Linked DNA regions of Homo sapiens: regions 1, 3 and 4 are each linked to region 2. The links come from fine-mapping of genetic effects on gene expression. A gene starts in region 2. Each other region holds a variant in brackets. All regions are shown on one strand. Distances are from middle to middle.

Evidence for each region.
Region 1: its variant is fine-mapped to the expression of METAP1D in whole blood (TOPMed, PIP above 0.99).
Region 3: its variant is fine-mapped to the expression of METAP1D in whole blood (TOPMed, PIP above 0.99).
Region 4: its variant is fine-mapped to the expression of METAP1D in whole blood (TOPMed, PIP 0.99).

Annotation. Positions count from the first base shown.
Region 1 is chr2:172,049,317-172,054,648 of GRCh38, forward strand. The region is part of intron 1 of METAP1D (methionyl aminopeptidase type 1D, mitochondrial); the gene reads left to right. Among named protein-coding and RNA genes, the nearest start is that of DLX1, 34 kb to the right of the region's middle. The variant C/T (reference allele first, on the strand shown) is at 3,032.
Region 2 is chr2:171,997,769-172,003,100 of GRCh38, forward strand. It overlaps METAP1D (methionyl aminopeptidase type 1D, mitochondrial), which reads left to right and starts at 2,185. Exons shown (of 10, transcript NM_199227.3): 1 at 2,185-2,241. The coding sequence starts at 2,202. It overlaps LOC124905590 (a long non-coding RNA gene), which reads right to left and starts at 2,141. Exons shown (of 3, transcript XR_007087296.1): 1 at 1,911-2,141. RefSeq lists a silencer at 1,880-2,179.
Region 3 is chr2:172,065,439-172,070,770 of GRCh38, forward strand. METAP1D (methionyl aminopeptidase type 1D, mitochondrial) reads left to right here. Exons shown (of 10, transcript NM_199227.3): 4 at 166-314; 5 at 826-868. Among named protein-coding and RNA genes, the nearest start is that of DLX1, 17 kb to the right of the region's middle. The variant C/T (reference allele first, on the strand shown) is at 2,356.
Region 4 is chr2:172,056,511-172,061,842 of GRCh38, forward strand. METAP1D (methionyl aminopeptidase type 1D, mitochondrial) reads left to right here. Exons shown (of 10, transcript NM_199227.3): 2 at 4,988-5,145. Among named protein-coding and RNA genes, the nearest start is that of DLX1, 26 kb to the right of the region's middle. The variant T/A (reference allele first, on the strand shown) is at 2,170.

The sequences.
Region 1 (5,332 bases), 52 kb after region 2:
ACATTCATATCCTTAAATATATAAGTATATATATTTAAATAAATGTTTATTTATATTTATGTTTACTTATATACATATATTTACTTATATACATATTTATATTTATGTTTACTTATATACATATACACACACATACACATATATATGGGCCAAATTGTAAGCAGGCATCTATGGAGCTCCCCTTTTAAGCCTGTGCCATTTTAACACTTTGTACTTTTTGAATTAATACCAAAAACTGTCGAGTGAGTATTCATATGGTCAACCAGGTATACCTAGTAGAATTGAGTGTAAAATTATTTGGGCAACATAACTATACCAGTCCAAAAAGCTGCCTTCAGAAAATTTGGAGCTTTTGCTTTTACTAAAGAGGTTACTGTATACTTTCTCTTTATTTTTCTGGTTGAAAATAACTCCTTGATGAGTGATCTTGGCTTCTGTTGTCTTGAATCTGTGTACTCTCAACTGCAGAAGCTTGGAAATATATTGTTTTCCTGAAGCATTAGCTTTCTCATTTTAGGTAGTAATTATTGACCTATCTACCTACCGATTTACCACTCCTATTGACTGGTTACAGGGCAGAGACAAAACTCCTACAGTTGTCAAAATACCACGATAAGATTGATATTCAAATGTTTTCTTTCTATCCCATGCCTTTCACTTAGAGATGTACAGTGAAAATCTTCTCAGGAAGTTTAAGATGTAGGGTTTTTTGTTTTTTGTCTTATTTGTTTTTGATATTGATACTACAATTTTGGTCAAAGCTCTGAGCTATTTCATCCCAATGGTTTGCTTGTGTGGCAATAACTTTCAATGGCCCATTGAAAAGAAAAAAGGAAAGAAAGACATCCAGCAATATACCTAGGGCATGCTGTATCTAGAATTCAGTTGACACTATTGTAATATGAAGACTAAAATCATGCTCTTTTCAAATGCTTTAATGTAATTTAAAAATATATTAAAGCTGTGCTTTTGATCATAGATTATAAGCCCTCATATCTTCTGTTATTGGGCATTTTAATACAAAATAACTAATATTTTAAGTAGTATATGACAGTAGTATTTATGAATAGTCTGGAGGTTTTTTTAAGAATTAAAGAAGGATTTTGTTACTATATCAGTTTTTTTTTAAAAAACTCATGATGTTTTTATATAGACTTTCTCTAAAATTCAGTTCCATGTGTGATTCCTATGAAATTGCTCTTTCTGGTTCTGATTTGTGTGCTTTAATATAAAATCATTCTATTTTCCTCTTCTTTAACCAAAGTGTGTGAGGTAACAGGAATGTTTCTTTTGAGAGACTTTGGAAGGTTGAAATTTGCCAGATGTTCTGTGCTAACCTAGAAGTGTGCATTCCCTGGGTAGCAGGACTGTGTGAAATTCTTTCCTATAACTTTGACAGAGCATTTGGTTTTGGTTCATTTTAGTGTTGTGCTTCTACTCTGATGAGAGCTTGTCTTTTATTCTGTGTTTAAATGATATTAAGGCATCCAGAAAATCTGACAAAGAAAATGATATTTTGATGACATTTTTCACAGGGCTCAACTAGAATGAATTATTACATTTTAACCACGGCCCTAATAAACAGCTTCTTTATTTCCTCTGTAAGGATACAATATTTCTTTGTCCAAGAAGTTGCCTGAGTATATGTATTGTTGAAGTGCTAAAAAGCTGCTTTTCTCTAAACTTTAGCTGAGAGACAATGGGATTTGCCAAGTATATACCATTTCATTGTGACTCAATACTTTATAAAGATGAATTTAAATTTTGAAGTAAACTTTTTTTGTCTCAAATGGAGAAATTCCATGCAATAGCCCTATTGTACAAATTAAACATTTCTATGTAACTTCTACTTATCCACCAAATGATCAGCTTTTAGTTTTATACTTGAGTTCTGACTATAATCTTTGGCACCCTTCCCCCAGCTATAATTCGGCTAGCCTAAAGGAATTTTTTTTCCTAGACTCACAAGCAGGAGCCTATATTATTAAGTAGGAATGTTTATAGATCTGTGTTTCTAGAGTAGGTTGAGGTGTTTTAGTTTCCCAAAAAGAGGGGAATGCTTCTTGTTTTAAATACAGATGCCTGTGTGCTGGTGGTGTACATTAGTGAATAATCACATATTAACAGATTTAGCTTTTGTAAAGAAGCAAAATGAAGTGTTTTCGTAAAACATTTCTGAACTTGTCATTGATGTTATACTCTATCAGTTGCTATTGATAATTTTATTTAAAGGAGGAGGTATATAGTATAGCGCCAACTTCCTGATTAGGCCTTGGGGAAGGTCACGTTTTGCAGTGACCTGGGCACCACTCTTAAATGTTGTTATTATTGGAAGAGGGTACCCTCAGGCTGCTGCCCTTCCTCTCCCCAGAAGCGCTCTGTGACTGACTTTCCAGTTCATCTTTTCTAGAACCAAGACTCCCAGGCTGTAGATGAATTCTGACATCTACAGACCAGTATCCATCTCAACTTCATTTGAGGTGAATTTTATTAGTAGTAGTGACCCAGTCCTACCTTAATATGAGAATGATGCATCCTCATAAAAATTGCAAACTTAGAGCAGTAAACAACTAGGATAAACTTTTATGTTTCAGCATAAAAGTGAGTTATGACTTTTTTGTCATTTAAAATATTGCACACATTTCCTTTTTATTTCTGTGGGATCTTTGTTACTGTTTTAGTGGTCTTAAGTAAAAATAACTTCAAGGACAACACGGTTGGATGTGAAGTAGAATATTTATTTCAGACAAGTATTATGCCCACATATTTTAGATTCAACTATGTGCTTTATTTTCAGCATTAAAGAAAATGAGCTGTTTTCCAACACCTGCATACCAACTGGGCCTGCATCCTCTTTAGAAATGTTGTTTAATAAACACTGTGGCTTTATCATCCAGAGGCTGTTGCCAAATGCTGTTAATTAGGCCAAAAAAATGTTTTTTAAAGGTTGGTGAAACAGATCCACTTTTCTCTCTGTAATGGCATCTTAGCTTGAAATCCAGGAAGCAGTGGTGTATGGTGTCCATATCCA[C/T]GATTTCCTGCATTGGAGAAAAAGTGTGGAAAGCATCTGGGGAAAAGGAGGCTCTTTACCAGCTTGTTTCCTGTAAGTTCAATTGGAAGACCTTGTCTGTGCAAATAGATTTCAAAATAGAGCCTGCCCTTTGACTGTCTCCATAATTACATGGCTCGCTCTGTATTTTATTTGGCAGCCAGAGCAGTTAACCCCTGGAAGGAAGGGGCTGATGGTATGGCCAGCTTGGCTTCCCAGGCATGTCCATGGGAATGAATAAACCACTGTTTGGAGAAGCCCATAGCTAAAAACACACTAGAATAGTCTGTAACTGAACTGAAACTCTTTTAAAACAAGTTCACTAATGTTTATTATGATCGGTTAAAAAACTTAACTTTGTCCTTATTGTGTAGATTATAGAGCTGTATTAATTGTTTTAAAAATTGGGAATTGGGGGAGTTCCTTGTTGCTTTGATGTAATCAACATCTGTCAACAGATGAATTTGCTTTTGTTTAGTTTCAAGGGCTCTTGTCCTTTAGCTTTGCCCAATCAGTATCTGCTTCAGCCTGGGGCATTCCCTAGTAGTGCATGTGGTTTTTTTTCCCTCAGCAAATGCATAGGTTATTTCTCATGAAATGTGAGCTTCTCTTCTGCTTTATAGTTGCCTTGAGATGGGAAGGAACCTTCAATCTTTCTCATTTATTTTGAAACGTACACCTTAGTACTAGATTATAAAAATCAATAAAAGAGTTATATCAAGTGATGCAGACTATTTAATTTTTCTTTAGCAACATTTGTACAAGTTATGAAACATGTCAAGCAATCAGTGTTTTAGGTCAAGAAATATAAGGCATGGATGCATTTGCAGTGTTCTCATGGACTTGAAGCACACAGCGCTGTAAGAGCCTGTGCTCCTACTCTGAGTAATTGGTTGGAGTTCATGAAGTGTGATCTTTCTGTGGGTCTAAATCAGCACCCCGAAAATATATTCCTATGCTATAGTCCCTTCTGAGCTTACTGTAGGAGGCAACATTTTTAAACAGTTAAAAATGTATCAGATTGCTGTCACAAAGTAAGTTGGGTTTTTTTTCTTGTTAAAGTTAATATATTATTAAGCAAATCATTTGGTTTAAAATTAAAATCATCAATGAATGTAAGAACCATATTTGAAAATGAATTAGCAAAACATTGTTGTTTTTCTCTCTTGGTAATCATAAATCATTTAAATCTGGCAGGCATTCCTCTCTTCATCCAAAATAATTGCCTCCATTTGTAAAATCAATTAGATGTTAACATGCTATAAATAATAGTTTTGTTACTAGACTTTGGCATTTACTGATCATTATGAAAAAATATATTCAGTAAGACATTTTACAGGGTGTCTTTTAAATCACATATTATCTCTGGTTGACATTGTTAGCTAATGTAAAGTAGTGCCAAGCTACATTATTGTGTTGTTTTCTACCCAGATATTTGATACCTCTGCAGTGTAACGTAACTGAGGATTGATGGCACACTGCAGGGTGAAAGTGCTTCCCTGGAAACATACAATGAAAAATATATGTGTTGGTAGTCCAAACTTGAGTACAAATGTACTTTGTTCAGTTTTACAACTGCTTAAAATAATAAGCATTTTAAATGTCTCTTTGAAAGTTCATTCAGACCTCTCCCTTAAAAATACTTATTGACCAAAAGAAAACTCACATTTTCAGGGATAAAATCAGCTTAATTAAGGGTCATTAGTAAAGGTGCACATGAAAACCCAGGGCTCAGTGGGTGAAATGGAAGCATTTCATTATGTGGTATAGGATGCATGAGCAGATAACAATTAAAATGGACCCTGAGTAAGAGGCCAATAAATATAGGGCATGTTGTGTGCAGCAACATTCGTTATTTAAAATGCATTCCTCCTGGCCAGGCACGGTGGCTCATGCCTGTAATCCCAGCACTTTGGGAGGCCGAGGTGGGCGGATCACGAGGTCAGGAGATCGAGACCATCCTGGCCAACATGGTGAAACCCGTCTCTATTAAAAATACAAAAATTAGCTGGACGTGGTGGTGGGTGCCTGTAATCCCAGCTACTCGGGAGGCTGAGGCAGGAAAATGACTTGAACCCGGGAGGCAGAGGTTGCAGTGAGCCGAGATCGTGCTACTGCACTCTAGCCTGGTGACAGAGCAAGAAGACTCTGTCTCAAAATAAATAAATAAATAAATAAATAAAATGCATTCCTCCCTCCATCATACTTGAATTCTATAATCCTACCTTCAGATTTAACCTATAAAGGAAAATAAAATGCAGCTTTTAGAAATGGATGTTATTA
Region 2 (5,332 bases):
GTTCAAGTGATTCTCCCGCCTTAGCCTCTGAGTAGCTGGGATTGCAGGCATGCACCACCATGCCTGGCTAATTTTTGTATTTTTAGTAGAGACAGGTTTCACCATGTTGCCCAAGCTGGTCTCGAATTCCTGACCTCAAGTGATCTGCCTGCGTTCGCCTCCCAAAGTGCTGGGATTACAGGCATGAGCCACCACACCCAGCTTATATCCCATAAGTTGATGGTTTTGGCGGACATGTGCTGGCAGCTTTTAACCCTTCTGCGGTGAGAAGGATGTGTATGAGAGAAGCCAGATCCAGGGTCAGTGGATGAGCTATCACCTGTGCAAGTTCATATTTGCTTCATTTCTAGCTCATCCCAGATATCTACATTCCATGCCGAACTTATTGAGGATTTCCTCACTGGATTCCACTACTGCTGGTGCCACCTGGGTCCTCATAGTGTTTCCTTTTCCTTTTAGTTGTAGGGGAATAAAGCATTCATTTATTTTCCAAGGGTTGGCTGAGTTAAGTCACATGAACATGTGTTCTATTTCAGATGGGTTTGAAACTAGGCTTGATGCCTTAAGGAATAGGGATGTCTAGATTTCTTTTTTCTGTACACTGCTTAAGACTCTGTGGCCAGCTAACTCTCAGGCTCCTTTGCTGCACTCAGATTGCTGGCCTCAGTTACACAGAGGACAGATTTGCCACATTCAAAAATGCTCTCCCTGGAATTGAAATGAGTTTGCAAAAGGTAGGAGTACATTTTATTCTCATTCTTGTGCATCTTATTTACCCTGATGGAAAGCATTACTTCTCTTTATCTTTCAAGGTGACCCAAAAGCATCCAAAACCAGGTTTTCCAGAATTATAGCATGTGTCCTCTAATGAAATGCCAACATTCACTCTCTTTAAAAGTAAAAATATCAAGATTATATAGTCATTAAAAAGAATAAGTCTGAACTAAGTGTTCTAAGATTTGATGCCTATGATGACTGGAATGGAAAAAGCAAGTCATATGATTCTATTTAAAATACTTACATTTGCCTGTGTGTAAAAGGCAAAGATCTCAATTGAGCACACGGTGGTTAACTGGGGAGTGGGACTATGGTATGTACAGAGGGCGAGGAAGGGGCTTGCACTTGTTCCTTATTTCTGAATTGTTCTGAATTGTCTAGATTATTCACTGAGTGTGTAGTGCTTAAAAATTAATTAGAAGACATCACACACATTCACTGAGAATCCTAATCAATCTTCACTGCATTTAAAGTCTGGAAACGGTTACATTCTCAGTTTGACTGGTTTCATGCAGTGTTCAATTGCTTCACCTGACATTCCTCGGGTATCGGGTTCTGTGCCGGGCACGGAGGCTACTAAGATGAATAACACCTGGTCCATGACAGGATGGCATCTACCCCAGAACACAGGTAAGAGAGACAGTGAATTTGGTAAAAATGGGCACCGTCATCAGTAGGCATACATCAGCTCCCTCATCTGATTCACAATTGGCCTTCTGTAGGCTTCTTCTCTTGGCAATGCAATTGGCAGGCGTCATCCTTTTATACTTAAACTCCAAATTTAGGATTAAGACTCCAGTTAATACTGCCAAGCAGAAGGCGTCCTTGGAGAAAGAGAAGTCTCCTGAACATACCCACTGGGGTACCTAGAATAGATTTTGCAGCGACACACAGATCCTGTGTTGTCTGGAGTCTCTGCTGAGTAATGTAGATTCTGGGACAGCAAAAGGGGAGCTGGTGACTTTGAACCAAATTTTACCTTTCAACTGAATCCAGGGGAATAATTTGCAACAGAGTGGCAGACGATACAAAGTGCTATGTTGAACACTAGATTGTGCTTTATTTTTTCCGCCCAACTTCACGTTTCCATGCACCAAAATGTTGATGCTATAAATATTGGATGCCACGCTTACCTGACAGGCTTCTTCCATCCCACCTGGGCGCGGGGGCTCAGAGCGAGCGCGCGAGCCGCGGCTGGAGCCCGCCTCTCGCGGCTGGAGAGGACTCAGCCGGCCGCGGGTTCTGCTGCTTGCCCGGGTGCCCTAGCCGCTTCCCAGCCAGGGCTCCCGCAGTCAGCCCCGCGCGCGCACGCGCGCTCCCCTCGGGCGGCCTCGACGCCTCAGGGCTTCGGCAGGGCTGCGACTGGCCGGCTCCAGCGGGCGGGGCGGCGAGCGAGTGCTCGCGGCCACGTGACCGACGCCAACATGGCGGCGCCCAGTGGCGTCCACCTGCTCGTCCGCAGAGGTAAGCGCGTGGAGGAGAGCCCCGTGAGGGTTCGCACGGTTGCTCACTAGGTACGCACCCGGGTCCAAAGGGATGCGCACCCGCGCTCAGACTTCTCGGCGCACACGACTGTACTTTCAGTGTTTACGAACACACGCAGGCACACACGATGACACATTCACACACCACAGGATCACACATACAAATTTGTTCACTGATCACCCGCCTAGAACACGTCACCACGTGGCATCTTTTCGCAATTACTCCTTGAGATTTGCGGGCCATTGTCTGAAGTTTTTTTCCCCAACTTCGGTTGTATCATTAGTGTAACCAACATTTATTCTGTATGCCGAGCAAGGAAACCTATGGTAATTCTGAAATGCATCTGGACACCCGGTTCCCTTCCCTAGAGCTTTTATGCAGGCATGCTTTTTGGGGACTTGCAAAATGTGATGGTTTTCTTCCAGTGACTTAAAGTTAAGAAGATAAGAAAGGATGTCTGGGTAGTTCTAAGTAGGTTTTATCCTGCGTGAGTGTTGAGATTTTAGTAAATATACAAATGCCTTTGCAGCAGAATTGGGGAAATCTTTGTTGGATTTGAACTAGGTGCTGAATCTTTGTTGGAAAGAACTAGAAAGTTTTTCCAAGGACGGGGGAAGAGGAAAACTATCATATTTTGAGGAGCTACTTAAGCGTCAGGCATGTAGGAACAGTTTTGTGAGGTAAATATTATTTTCATAGTAACAGCTACTGTTTATTAAGTGCCTTTTAAGTACACGATACTGTGTTAAGCGCCTTACATATGCTTGCTTCCTTTTAAAACTCAATGAATGAGACCCCGTCTCTACAAAAAATTTTAAAAATTAGTCGGGCGTGGTGACACATGCCTGTAGTCTCAGCTATTCTGGGGGTTGAGGTGGTAGGATCGCTTGAGCCTGGGAGGTCAAGAGGCTGCAGTGAGCCGTGATCGTACCACTGAACTCCAGACTTGGCAATAGAGCCAGACCCTGTCTCAAAAACAAAAACAAAAACCCAGTGAGTTAGGAATTATTTTCTCTTTGCAGAAGGGAAAAGTAAGGCTAGAGAGGTTAAGTAACATTACTAAGGTCGCATAAATGGTAAGAGGCAGATTGCTCATTTGAACATGACTCTAATTTTTTTTTTTAAGACTCATTTCTCGGTACTGCATGACGTGGTCACTCCATAGAAGTCAGTGTGTAAAGTTCAGCAGAGACAGTGCAGGATGAGTGTGTACAAAAAGTGAAGAGAGCCTGGGCACGGTGGCTCACACCTGTAAACCCAGCACTTTGGGAGGCCGAGGCAGGTGGCTCACTTGAGGTCAGAAGTTCAAGACCAGCCTGGCCAACATGGTGAAACCCCGTCTCTACTAATATACACAATTAGCTGGGCGTGGTGGCGCATGCCTGTAATCCCAGCTACTCGGGAGACTGAGGTAGGAAAATTGCTTTAACCCAGGAGGTGGAGGTTGCAGTGAGCTGAGATCATACCACTACACTCTAGCCTGGGCGACAGAGCGAGACTCCGTCTCAGAAAAAAAAAATAAATAAAAATAATAAAAAATAAGAAGTGAAGAGGAAGATATTTTTAGAGAGGAAGAAGGTTGGTAATCGAATAGACTTCAGTATTTCAGTGTTAGTGGAGATGAGAAAGGGGCCACAGGAAGATTTGAGGGGAGAGATGTGTATGGGGAAGGTGATGTAGCGAGCATTTTGGACTGGTTGCATGAAGGAATGGACATCAGCATGAGAGTGTAGCCTTGTGAAAAGACAGCCAATTTACATCTCTCAAGATCTGGGTGCCAGGCCTGGCAAGGTGGCTAATGCCTGTAATATTACCCAGCACTTTGGGAGGCCAAGGCGGGCAGATCACTTGAGGCCAGGAGTTCAAGACCAGCCTGGCCAACATGGTGAAACCTGTCTCTACTAAAAATACAAAAATTAGCCAGGTGTGGTGGCACATGCTGGTAATCCCAGCTACTTGGGAGGTGGAGGTGGGAGGGATCGCCTGAACCCAGGAGGCGGAGGTTGTAGTGAGCTGAAAAAAAAAAAAAAAAGATCTGGGTTCCAGTCCAAACTTTCTTTACTAATTACTTTTCTGTTTCCTCTTTTCACAAGAAATCATGGCTTTTAGACTTCATTTTTGTATGCTTCAGGTAATGGTGAGAAGGATCTGAGGAGATAGTCAATGTAGAGGAGGAGCCAAAAAAAAAACAACCTGAAAACATACATAGGTGTATGTATGTATATATATATACACCTATGCATGTATAAACGTATTTTTATATGTGTGTATATATGTATTAGGTTGGTACAAAAGTAATTGCAGTTTTAGAATCAATGACAAAAACTGTGATTACTTTGCACCAACTGTATATATAACATCTCTTTGCAGATAACAGAAATAGCATTAATCTTTTCTTTCTTTTTGATCACTTATTATTTTGACAAATGGTGGTTTAGACAGTCTTGAGAAAATATATTATATGGAAGTCAGGCCAAGTTATTGGTTCCTATAATCCATCCCACTGTATCCCAAAGTGTTGCAACAACCAAGAAGTGGATCCTCTGATTAGAGGAGAGAAGAAAAATGTGTCATCAGGAAGCTATTTTAATGATGGAGAAAGGGCCCCTTTTTGGACTACCCATAGCTAGTTTTAAATTGCAGAGAGGTTTTCCTGCTCCCCACCCCCAAGAATTGAAAATGAAGGGTAAATTCACGAAGACTCCTCTCTCCACCCTCTTCCTCCCTTTCACCCATCTAGATTTATGTAAAGCAATCCATTACAAGTCTTCATGTACCAGGATTTATTATCAGCATTTATGAGCATCATTTCTTCTTGAAATAGAGGAAGACTTTTTTTTAACCTTTTAAAAAAGGCATGAGGTTTCTCTTGTGACGCCTCAACTCATTGTGGCTTTGGTCACAGTATACCCTATATACAGTAGTTACCTAGCTCCTCTCACCATTTCTGCTCCTTACTAGATTATTAATTCTTGTTGAACAGAAGCTTTGTCTTATGTATCTTTCTGTCTTTATAAGCACAGTACCTGGCTCAAAGTTAAGCTCATTAAAAGTATACAGAATTGAGAGG
Region 3 (5,332 bases), 68 kb after region 2:
TTGAGGATTCTAACACTAATCATAATTAATTCAAATGTTGTACCATAACTTTATCATAGTAAATTTATACAGTCTCACATGGAAGTACTGTTGCTATAGCATAGTTGATAAATACAAGAAATGTCTTCAATTGTTGCTGCACAATTTCTTTATTTAACATTTTAGGTTGACATGACAACTGAAGAGATAGATGCTCTTGTTCATCGGGAAATCATCAGTCATAATGCCTATCCCTCACCTCTAGGCTATGGAGGTTTTCCAAAATCTGTTTGTACCTCTGTAAACAACGTGCTCTGTCATGGTATTCCTGACAGGTATTCAGTTCTTAATAACATATTGTTCCTTTGGAAACTAAAACATGAAGCTAAGATCTGTAACATATGTTGAAAGACACTATCATTCAATTGAAACCCACCGGTAAACTTCTGAAATTGATTATGATAAAACAGAAATTTTGAAGTATTTTACTTCTAAATGGATACACCACCACCATTTAATGTTTGTTAAAGCAGTGCATAATCTAAATGGGGGTTGTGCATTACGTATGTCTTTTACTTCTTAGATTTTAATCATATAAGTGGTAAAATTCAAATGTGGCAAATTTTTCTTATCAACTCTTGTTTTGGTTCTTGGCAAAATTAAGGTAATAAATTAAGTGCATCTTTTGAAATAAAGATTAGATTTAGTTATCCTGTGTAGTCCTCCTTCACTCCAAATTATCACTGCATCCCATTGGGTTTGTGACAGTAGTCATTAAGTATTTATTTTTATTTTCCTTTTATTGAGATCTGTCTATCACCATTTTTTTTTCTGTTTACGTTTTAGTCGACCTCTTCAGGATGGAGATATTATCAACATTGATGTCACAGTGAGTAAATCATATAAAAAATTGTCTTTGATCAACTTCAGAATTGCTGGTAGCAACAGGAAGAGTGGATTGAAAATGTGAACTGCACCAGTGGAAGTGCTGTTTACTTCTAGACCCAGACGCAAGCAGCTGGTTTCCTTTTTTGTCTTTAACTCTGTGTTTATTCCAAGTAAACCCAGGCCTGACTTGAATTTAGGGCTGCAATCAGATGCACTGAGATCAATGTTGGCCTAAGTGAAATGTCAACCCAATCCTGCTATGTGTCATGTTTTTGAGAAGGTGTAATTGTTATTGATCCACTGTGTAGTTAACGCAGAGCACCACAGCACTGGGCAGCTGCTGAAGCTAGATATGTATGAGATGAGCTAACACGAAGAAAGCCAGCATTTTTCCTTCACTCTGCCAAGATTGATCTTCCTCTTCCTGCTGATTTTGAGTGGGGCCTGTCATTATCTTACTCTGTCATTAGGGGCTACATTGGCCTGTGTATGTCAGTCTATTTGGACAGCAACTCTTTTGCTAGCAGTGTTCCCTAGATTTATTAAAATCCCTGAAGGTAACGTTGAGTTCCATTTCTGGTATAGAGAGCCTTGTGCTCAAAGTAAGCAGAGTGGTTTTTTTGTCTGAACTTAAGTTTTCACCAAATGGTTAATAGCCTTTCTTTTAAGTAACAAGCCTAAGTAATTTATCATAGGGACTTCAAATTGTACAAGATGTAGCTTTTTCTCATTTTCTTAGCCTTTTACCATTCTCAGACTTGGATTATATGTGCTTTTACATTTCTGTTTATTAAAGAATTTTGTAATGATACCTTTGGATTACCTAGATTATAAATAAATTCTGTACATCTAATGATTAACAAATACATTTTAAATAAATAAACAAAATTTAAACATCTTAGGAGAACTAGTTGAAATGACAATATTCAGGGAATACAATTTCTATTAATAAGGAAGTGTTTTTAAGAATAGTATCTAGACCATGAAACTGAAGTAGGAGTGGGAATGAGATAAAAATAGGAATCCAATGGTGGAATTCAGTCTGACTTTTAGTTTAAGTTAACTAAACCTTTTTTCTTCATATCAATCATATGAGGAGATAGCCAACGATTCTTTCATTGCTGATGCTATTTCCTGTATCATTTTATCCTACTTAAAATGCTTGAACACTTGCACCACATACATCCTGTTGGTATCTTTCCAACTCAGAATCATGTGGAAGGAGGTATTTTATGAAGTATACCTAAAACAGAGTTCTTTTCATGAGACACTTTTATTTTGGATTGTACCTGATTTTACGGTTTTACATCTATTTTCTCATCTAGTCACCCTATCATGAAATGTTACCATTTTAATGTTTTGAATGAAATCAACTACTCTTCCCTACTGTTTCCAGTGTGTCCAAAGAAAATACTCTATTCCTTTTCTAAGTTTCCTGAATACTTAATAAACAGTTTTGTATTTAACATTCAAATTACTTCACAATTG[C/T]AAAACTTATAAAGCAAAGTGAAATATTTCCAAGTGTCTAGAAATGTGAAGGAATCTAGGAAACATATAGGTCCATATCTTAACAAATTATATTTCTTATAAAATATTTTATTAAGTGAAGGACTCCATTATCAGATCCTATGTTTCTATCAGAAAATACTCATTGCATCTTAGAATTATTGACGTCTAGTATACATCACAAGAAATTAGATTTCCTTCCCCCCTTTAAAACTGAAAAATGTTTTTCTTAAAGACAATGCGATGTCCATAGTAGTTGCTCAATAAATATTTGTTAAATGAAGTACAAGGGCCAGGCGCAGTGGCTCATGCCTGAAATCCCAGCACTTTGGGAGGCCAAGGCAGGCGGATCACCTGAGGTCAGGAGTTCAAGACCAGCCTGGCCAACATGGTGAAATCCCATCTCTACTAAAAATACTAAAAATATAAAAATTAGCCCTGTGTGGGGGCAGGAGCCTCTAATCCCAGCTACTTAGGAGGCTGAGGCAGGGAGAATTGCTTGAACCTGAGAGGCAGAGGTTGCAGTGAGCTGAGATCGCGCCCCTGCACTCCAGCCTGGGTGACAGAGCGAGACTCTGTCTCAAAAAATAAATAAATAAATAAATGAAGTACAAGTACTAGTTTATGGGTATAAATAGAAATTGTAGATGACTGCCACAGACTTTCAAAAGTATTGTATTTCTGTATATAGTGAATCTTTTAAGTAGTCTTTTTTTTTTTCAGACGGAGTTTCCCTCTGTTGCCCAGGCTGGAGCACAATGGCAGGATCTCAGCTCACTGCAAACTCCGCCTTAAGGGTTCAAGTGATTCTCCTGCCTCAGCCTCCCCAGTAACTGAGACTACAGGCACACGCCACCACACCCAGCTAATTTTTGTATTTTAAGTAGAGGCTGGGTTTACCATGTTGGCCAGACTGGTCTTGAACTCCTGACCTCAAGTGATCCGCCCACCTCCGCCTCCCAAAGTGCTGGAATTATGGGTGTGAGCCACTGCACCAGTCTCAAATAGTCATTTTGATATTCCTTCCTTCCTTCCTTCCTTCCTTCGTTCCTCCCTTCCTCCCTCCCTTCCTCCCTTCCTTTCTTTTTCTTTTTCTTTGTTTCCTTTTCTTTTTTTACTTTTTCAGATATAGGGTCTTGCTCTGTCACTCAGGATGCAGTGCAGTGGTGCCATCATGGCTTACTGTAAGCTTGAACTCCTGGGCTCAAGTGATCCTTCTACCGTAGCCTCCCAAGTAGCTAGAACTACAGGCGTGTGCCACCACACCTGGTTAATTTTTTAATTTTGTAGAGATGGGGTTTCACTATGTTTCCCAAGCTGGTCTTAAACTCCTGGTCTCACGCAATCCTCTCATCCCAGCCTCCCAAAGGATTGCAGGCGTGAGCTACTGCACCCAGCCTCAAGTAATCATTTTCAAAGCTAGGAAAAAGTAATATGAAAAGATGAATAAAGATTTTTTAAAATAGTACATTTTTACTTAAAAAGCAGTTATATAAACATTCATTTATACATTTTCTTGACTACGCCTATATTAGCAAATTTTATATTCTTGTATTTTGAATGAAATCGTATTTTGTATTTTGAAATAGTATTCTTGTATTTTGAATGAAATATAAGAATATAAAAATTTGAATTTTTGAACGAAATCAGCATAGTCTTCCCTACTGTTTCCAATGTGTCCAAAGAGAATACTCTATTCCTTTTCTAAGTTTCCTGAAGACTTTTAATAGTTTCATTATTAACATTCAAACTATTTCAAAATTGTAAAACCTATGAAGCAAAGTGAAATACTGCCAAGTGTATAAAATAAAAACTCATACTTTCCTGGATTGCAAAGGACTGTAAGTGGGAGTAAATGTATAAAACACTATTCTGTTGCAAGGTAATTAAGATAATTTGATATAGTAGAGAAAACACTCGATTAGAAGCCAATAATCCATCATATTAACCTGAATCTACCTCTATATTCTGCCACCAACCTTAAACAAGTTACTTATCTGTGCCTCAGTTTCCTGAATTATAAACTGAAGATCTAATAAAGACCTTTCTTGCTTCCTTCACAGAATATGAGAGCATTTTTTAAGAAATGCAGAGTAGTATACAGATTTAAGACATTAATTCAGTATCACAACAGACTGAAAGCTCATATAAACATCTTTTTTATAACAGTTTCTACATTCTACCTTATGAGCAAGAGAAATGTGAAAAATAATTAGATAGGACAAATTTATGCAAAGTAGCAAATTCCATGCTACATCAAAGGATCAGTATCCAAACAGTTGCCTCTGCCTTTTATATTTACTATAGTGCTTGGTTATCAATGATTTATAATGAATCTGGTATCTTTCAAGATCCTACTTGGCTTCTGAATCACTGAAGACTGATAAAATTATACTTTCTGTAATTGTGCTTTTAAGCTTGTTTTATTATATTCTAATTCTTTAGATATCCATATATAGTGCTTTCTGTTAACGTTCGGCTGTCTGGAACATTTGATTAAGATTTCACTTCTAGACATAGGATTTTTCTGTAACACATTTCATTCCTATATGGAACCACTTCAATTCTTAGAACTGAATTCTCCTATTTGTTTGTTAGAATACAGACATGTCTATCTTACTTCTTCTTGTCATTATATATCACTTCAAATGTAGAACTGGTAAATACAAAATCAAGTAAGTCTTCATGACATTGAAGAAACTTTTCACTATGTTAAATACTTTTTGGTTCTCTAAACCTGTTGTGGTAATTGTAGATCAAGGTCTTTGGCTACTAATTTTTGCTTATATAATTTTGTCTTCTCAGAAATAAAGTGAGGAATCAAAATATTACAGTAGTATTGTTCATCATAATGCTGAAATAACCATACTAGTTAACATAGTTGTTTTTAAATTTTGCAATATCATTGCATGGCTTCATCTTTTAAATTTCTGCAAGGTTTCAATATATCTATTTCTTC
Region 4 (5,332 bases), 59 kb after region 2:
AAGGATGTAAGCTCCCTGGGAGTCGGGACCTTGTCACCTCATTCACCACTGAATTCTCTAATCCAGAGCATGGCACATGCAATGAGTTCATTAAGTAGTTGTTGAATGAATGAAGGCATTTAGAGACCCCACAGGTAAACATGTTGAAGAATGGAGAAGGAAAAGGAAAAGAAAGGAGCATTTATGGAGCACCTATTTTTTAAAAGATGGTTTACCTATTTATGTTATCTCAGCAAATGCTCACATCAGCTCGTGGTAGGGAGAGCACTACTACTCCCATTTAATAGTGAAGAAAATGAGTCTCAGAAGTTTTGGTAACTCACACCTGTTTGACCTCCAAGCTCATGCTGTTGTCACTACCATAGTGCCTCCCAACTGGATCATTTCTAAGAATTTTCATGAAAAGTGTCTTCATTCTAAATGCTAACTAGTTACATGATATTTACATTTTTCATGATAAAAAAAACTGACCTTGAAATCTAGTCCCTGAAAGAATACATTATGTAACAAAACACACTAGCGAATAGAACTCATAGAGCCCCTGCACACTGCTGAGAGGCAACTGGAATGGCAGACACAGCCCTGGATTTGGATTTACAGGATTAAGCTTGGGGCCTGGTCATTGATTACCAGACTTGTGAGCCTTAGTTCCTCATCTATAAAGCAGTGATGTTAACAGCTACCTGCCTAATGACAGAGCTGGTAAGAGGTAATGTATGTAGAGCACCTAGCACTGAGCTTAATCTAAGTGTCCATTAAATTTTAACCACTGTTATTATTACTATTTATATTAGCATTATCATTATTAATAGTAATTATAATACTTTCCTCAGAAGAGAAACACTTGTGAGTTTGTGTCTTGTATGTGGTCCTGCCTAGCAATGCAATTAGGGAGGTGGAATCATAGATTGAGTCCACCTGTGTCTTTCCAAATTTTCCATTTCATATCCACAGACTGTCCAACTAATAGTTCTGGCAGCCACCTCCCCAAAGCGTGTGTTTGGTCAGCGAAGGCAGCTTGGCTTAAGGTAGTGGGTGGATTAGGCCAACCCATCACCACTTTTGGAAAAATAATAGTAGTAGTAACAATAGTTTTGTGATGCCTTTTCAATTTTCTGGGTATTTCCCTGTGTTTTAGCTCCTGTTTTTTCTCATGCCTGTGAGAGAAGTAATACATTTTGTAGAGGCAACTTAGCCTGCTTTCCCTCTCAGCTTTGGCACTTACTGCATGTTCCTTTGTGTGCCTCAGTATCTTCAACTGTGACATGGAGTAATAACAGTTCACAATTCATACAGTTTCTGTGAAGATTAATGAGCTAACATATGTAAAGTGCCTAGTACAGTAATTGAGGCATAATAAGTGTTCAGTATTAGAAGCTATACTGGAGGTCATGTTTTCTTTCCCATTTTATTTTTTGTGCAGACTTTTTTTTTTTTTTTGAGACAGGATCTTACTCTGTTGCCCAGGCTGGAGTGCAGTGGTGTGATCATAGCTCAGTGCATAACTCAGTGATCATAGCTCCAGGGCTCAAGTGATTCTCCTGCCTCAGCCTCCTGAGTAGCTGGACTCCTGAGTAGCTGGACTGACTCCTGAGTAGCTGAACTCCTGAGTAGCTGGACTACAGTAGCTGATGGCCCAAGCCACCACATCTGGCTAATTCTTTTATTTTTTGTAGAGATGGGATCTCACGATCCTCCCACCTCGACCTCCCAAAGCGCTGGGATTACAGGTTTTTATGTATTCTTGAAAGAACTATTATTTATTGGGTATCTTCTAAATGCAAGACACTTTCACATTTCTTATTTCAATTCTCACCTGAGACTGAAATGAAGAAACTTGTGCAGGGCCACACAGCTAATAAGTGGTAGAGCTGAAACAAAAGTCCAGGCTTCTGCCTTCCAACTGTCTGCTTTTCCTAGGACACTACCCTGTCCCTCATATATCAGTTGACAATACTAGGGTTGGTGATATTGTCATTAGGGAAATATTATACTTTAAAAGCTTTACACAATACATACCTGCCTCTATCAAGCAACTTTTTTTTTTTTAGAGAGACAGGAGTCTTGCTTTGTTGCCCAAGCTGGTCTCAGACTCCTGGGTTTAAGCAATCCCACATCAGCTGCCCTCCAAAGTAGCTGGGACTACATGTATGTGCCACTGTACCTGAG[T/A]TTTGTAACTTCTTTTTAAAGAAATGATATTACTGACATTTTGTCTAGTGCTTGAAATTGTTTAAAATAGTACCAAAAACACCTCTATAAGTTAGATTCAACAATATTGCAGTCCACTTTAAGGAGGGACATAATTGAGTGAAACCTATCACCCTGAATCACTGATCATTGCGGTTTGTTTGCATCAGTGCCTTTCCCCAAGTCAATTAGAGATCCAGAGTTTTGAAGCCAGTACTTACCTGCAATTCACGTTTTCATTATGTTTCACAGCTGAAATGTTACTCTAGGCCAGTTCTCAAGCTTCGTGTGCGTCAGGATTACCTGAGGGCTGGTTAAGGCACAGATTGCCCGCCTCCATCACCAGTTTCTATGTTTGTAGGTCGATACGGGGCCCAAGAATTTGCATCTTTTTTCTTTTTCTTTCTTTCTTTCTTTTTTTTTTTTTCTGAGACAGAGTCTTGCTCTGTCACCCAGGCTGGAGTGCAGTGGCGCGATCTTGGCTCACTGCACCCTCTGCCTTCCGGGTTCGAGTAGTTCTCCTGCCTTAGCCTCCCGAGTAGCTGGGATTACAGGCGCGCGCCACCATGCCCGGCTAATTTTTGTATTTTTAGTAGAGACAAGGTGTGGGATTACAGGCGTGACCCACCGCACTCAGCCTTGCATCTTTTTTCTATGTGACATTATACTGCTGGTCTGTGAACCTCATTTTAAGGACTACTGCTCTAGACCAGGATTCAGCAAATGTCTCCTGTAGAGGGCCAAAGAGTACATTTTTTAGGCTCTGTGGAACATGTGTTCACAACTACTCAGCTACCACTGTAGCTCAAAATCCTCCATAGACATTTGTAAGCAAATGAGGGTAGCTATGGTCCAATGAACCTTTTATTTATGGGCACCAAGATTTGAATTTCATGTATTACAAAATATTGGGTTAAAAAGTTTTTTTCAACCATTTATAAATGTAAAAACCATTTTTAGGTTTTGTGCTGTATAAAAACAGTCAGCAGTCCAGATTTGGCCCTTGAGCTGTAGTTTTCTGACCCCTGCCATGTAGTTGTGACCTGTTGGGGACTTCTAAAACTATTGTTCTGGCCAGGCGCGGTGGCTACGCCCGTAATCCCAGCACTTTGGGAGACCAAGGCGGGCAGATTACGAGGTCAGGAGATTGAGACCAGCATGGCCAACATGGTGAAACCCCGTCTCTACTAAAAATACAAAAAAATTAGCCGGGCCTGGTGGTGCGCGCCTGCAGTCCCAGCTACTCTGGAGGCTGAGGCAGGAGAATTGCTTGGACCTGGGAGGCGGAGGTTGCAGTGAGCCAAGATCGCGCCACTGTACTCCAGCCTGGGCGACTGAGTGAGACTCCGTCTCAAAAAAAAGAAACCAAAAAACAAAAAACAAAAAAAAGATTGTTCTAAATATGAAAGTAATAAAATGAATCAAAATGTCTTCCTGGCTGGATGCAGTAGCTCACGCCTGTAACCTCAACACTTTGGGAGGCCGAGGTGGGAGGATCGCTTGAGCCCAGGAGTTTAAAACCAGCCTGGGCCACATAGCAGGACCCCATCTCTACAAAAAATACAAAAATTAGCCAGGCATGGTAGCATGTGCCTGTGGTTCCAGCTACTCAAGAGGCTGAAGTGGGAGGATTCCTTGAGCCTGGGAATCCAAGGCTGCAGTGAACCATGATCGCACCACTGTTGCCTTAGCCTGGGCGACAGAGCAAGACCCTGTCTCAAAAAAAAAAAAAAAAAAAAAGTCTTCCTCTCTACCTCTAGCCCCAACCACAAGCCACAGAAAGAGCCACTGTTTACAAATATCAATTTCCAGAAATTTTATGAGCACGTGCAAGCTTATATAAATGTATAAGCTCCTTTTACATTAATGGGCTTTTTATATGTATTTGTTAAGCATTCACTTTTTTCCTAACAGTGTATTGTGACCTCTTTCCATATCAACACATAGAGATGATGATTTAGCCTATTCTTTTTAATAGCTCCAGAATTTTCTGTAAGTATACCATAATATATTTAATCAGTCCCCTACTGGTATTTCCTATTTGGAAACATTTGAGTTGTTTCCCACTTTCTTCTACCACAAATAATGCTGCCATGAGGGTACATCTTCATTCATCCATCAGTGCATAGTGTCTGCAGGATAAAGTCCTAGGAGATGAACTGCTGAGTCAAAGGATATGTGCATTTAAAATTTTGATAGACATTTCTAAATTCCTGTTGTGAGTACTTCAAACCCTATATTCATTTTCTTTCAGTGTTATACTTACATTTTTGCTATTTAGTCTTTATCTGACTTGAACATTCATCACAATGAATTTCAGTATAATGCCTCACTGCACGTGAACTTAACACAGAGTAGTAATCCTATGGAGGGCAAAAAGTGCAGCTGGCAATTTGTCCGTGATTCTTGAAAGGAAACGGCTTTACAGAGTATAAAGCCATCAAAACAGTGCCCTGAATCTAGGGTCGTCTTGGACATTGCCACATAAGGTATTACAGCAGAAATTGTTCTTTTTACAGACCTGGTGCTTAGCAGATGTTTCTATATGTTTGTTTCCCGTTAGAGTAGAGTTTTCCATTGTCACGCATTTATGTAAACATAGTATTAGCTAATAAATACGCTGTGTTACTATTGTACTAGAATTCAGAATACCACTGTTTTCATTTCTATTTGGGGCTTTTCCTTTTTCAGTCAATAAGGTATTAGAATAATGATTTAATAGACAACACCACAACATCTTAAAGTGGAGGACTGTGTTAGGTTGTTTTTTTACTTAAAATATGTCTGTTTCTGCTCACAGGTTCTCATAGAATTTTCTCTTCACCACTCAATCATATCTACTTACACAAGCAGTCAAGCAGTCAACAAAGAAGAAATTTCTTTTTTCGGAGACAAAGAGATATTTCACACAGTATAGTTTTGCCGGCTGCAGTTTCTTCAGCTCATCCGGTTCCTAAGGTACTGTATTGCCTATTATCTCCTGCTTTTTCCAGCCAAGATAAAAGTTGACTGCAGAAGTGATCAAATATTTTTGCACCTTTGATTTCTGAGCCATTTGGGTTTTAATTTTCAAACTAGGTTTGTGATCTAAAACTGTGATTTGAGAAGTTTTAATATCCTGCAATTCTATAGCATTAATTTTTTA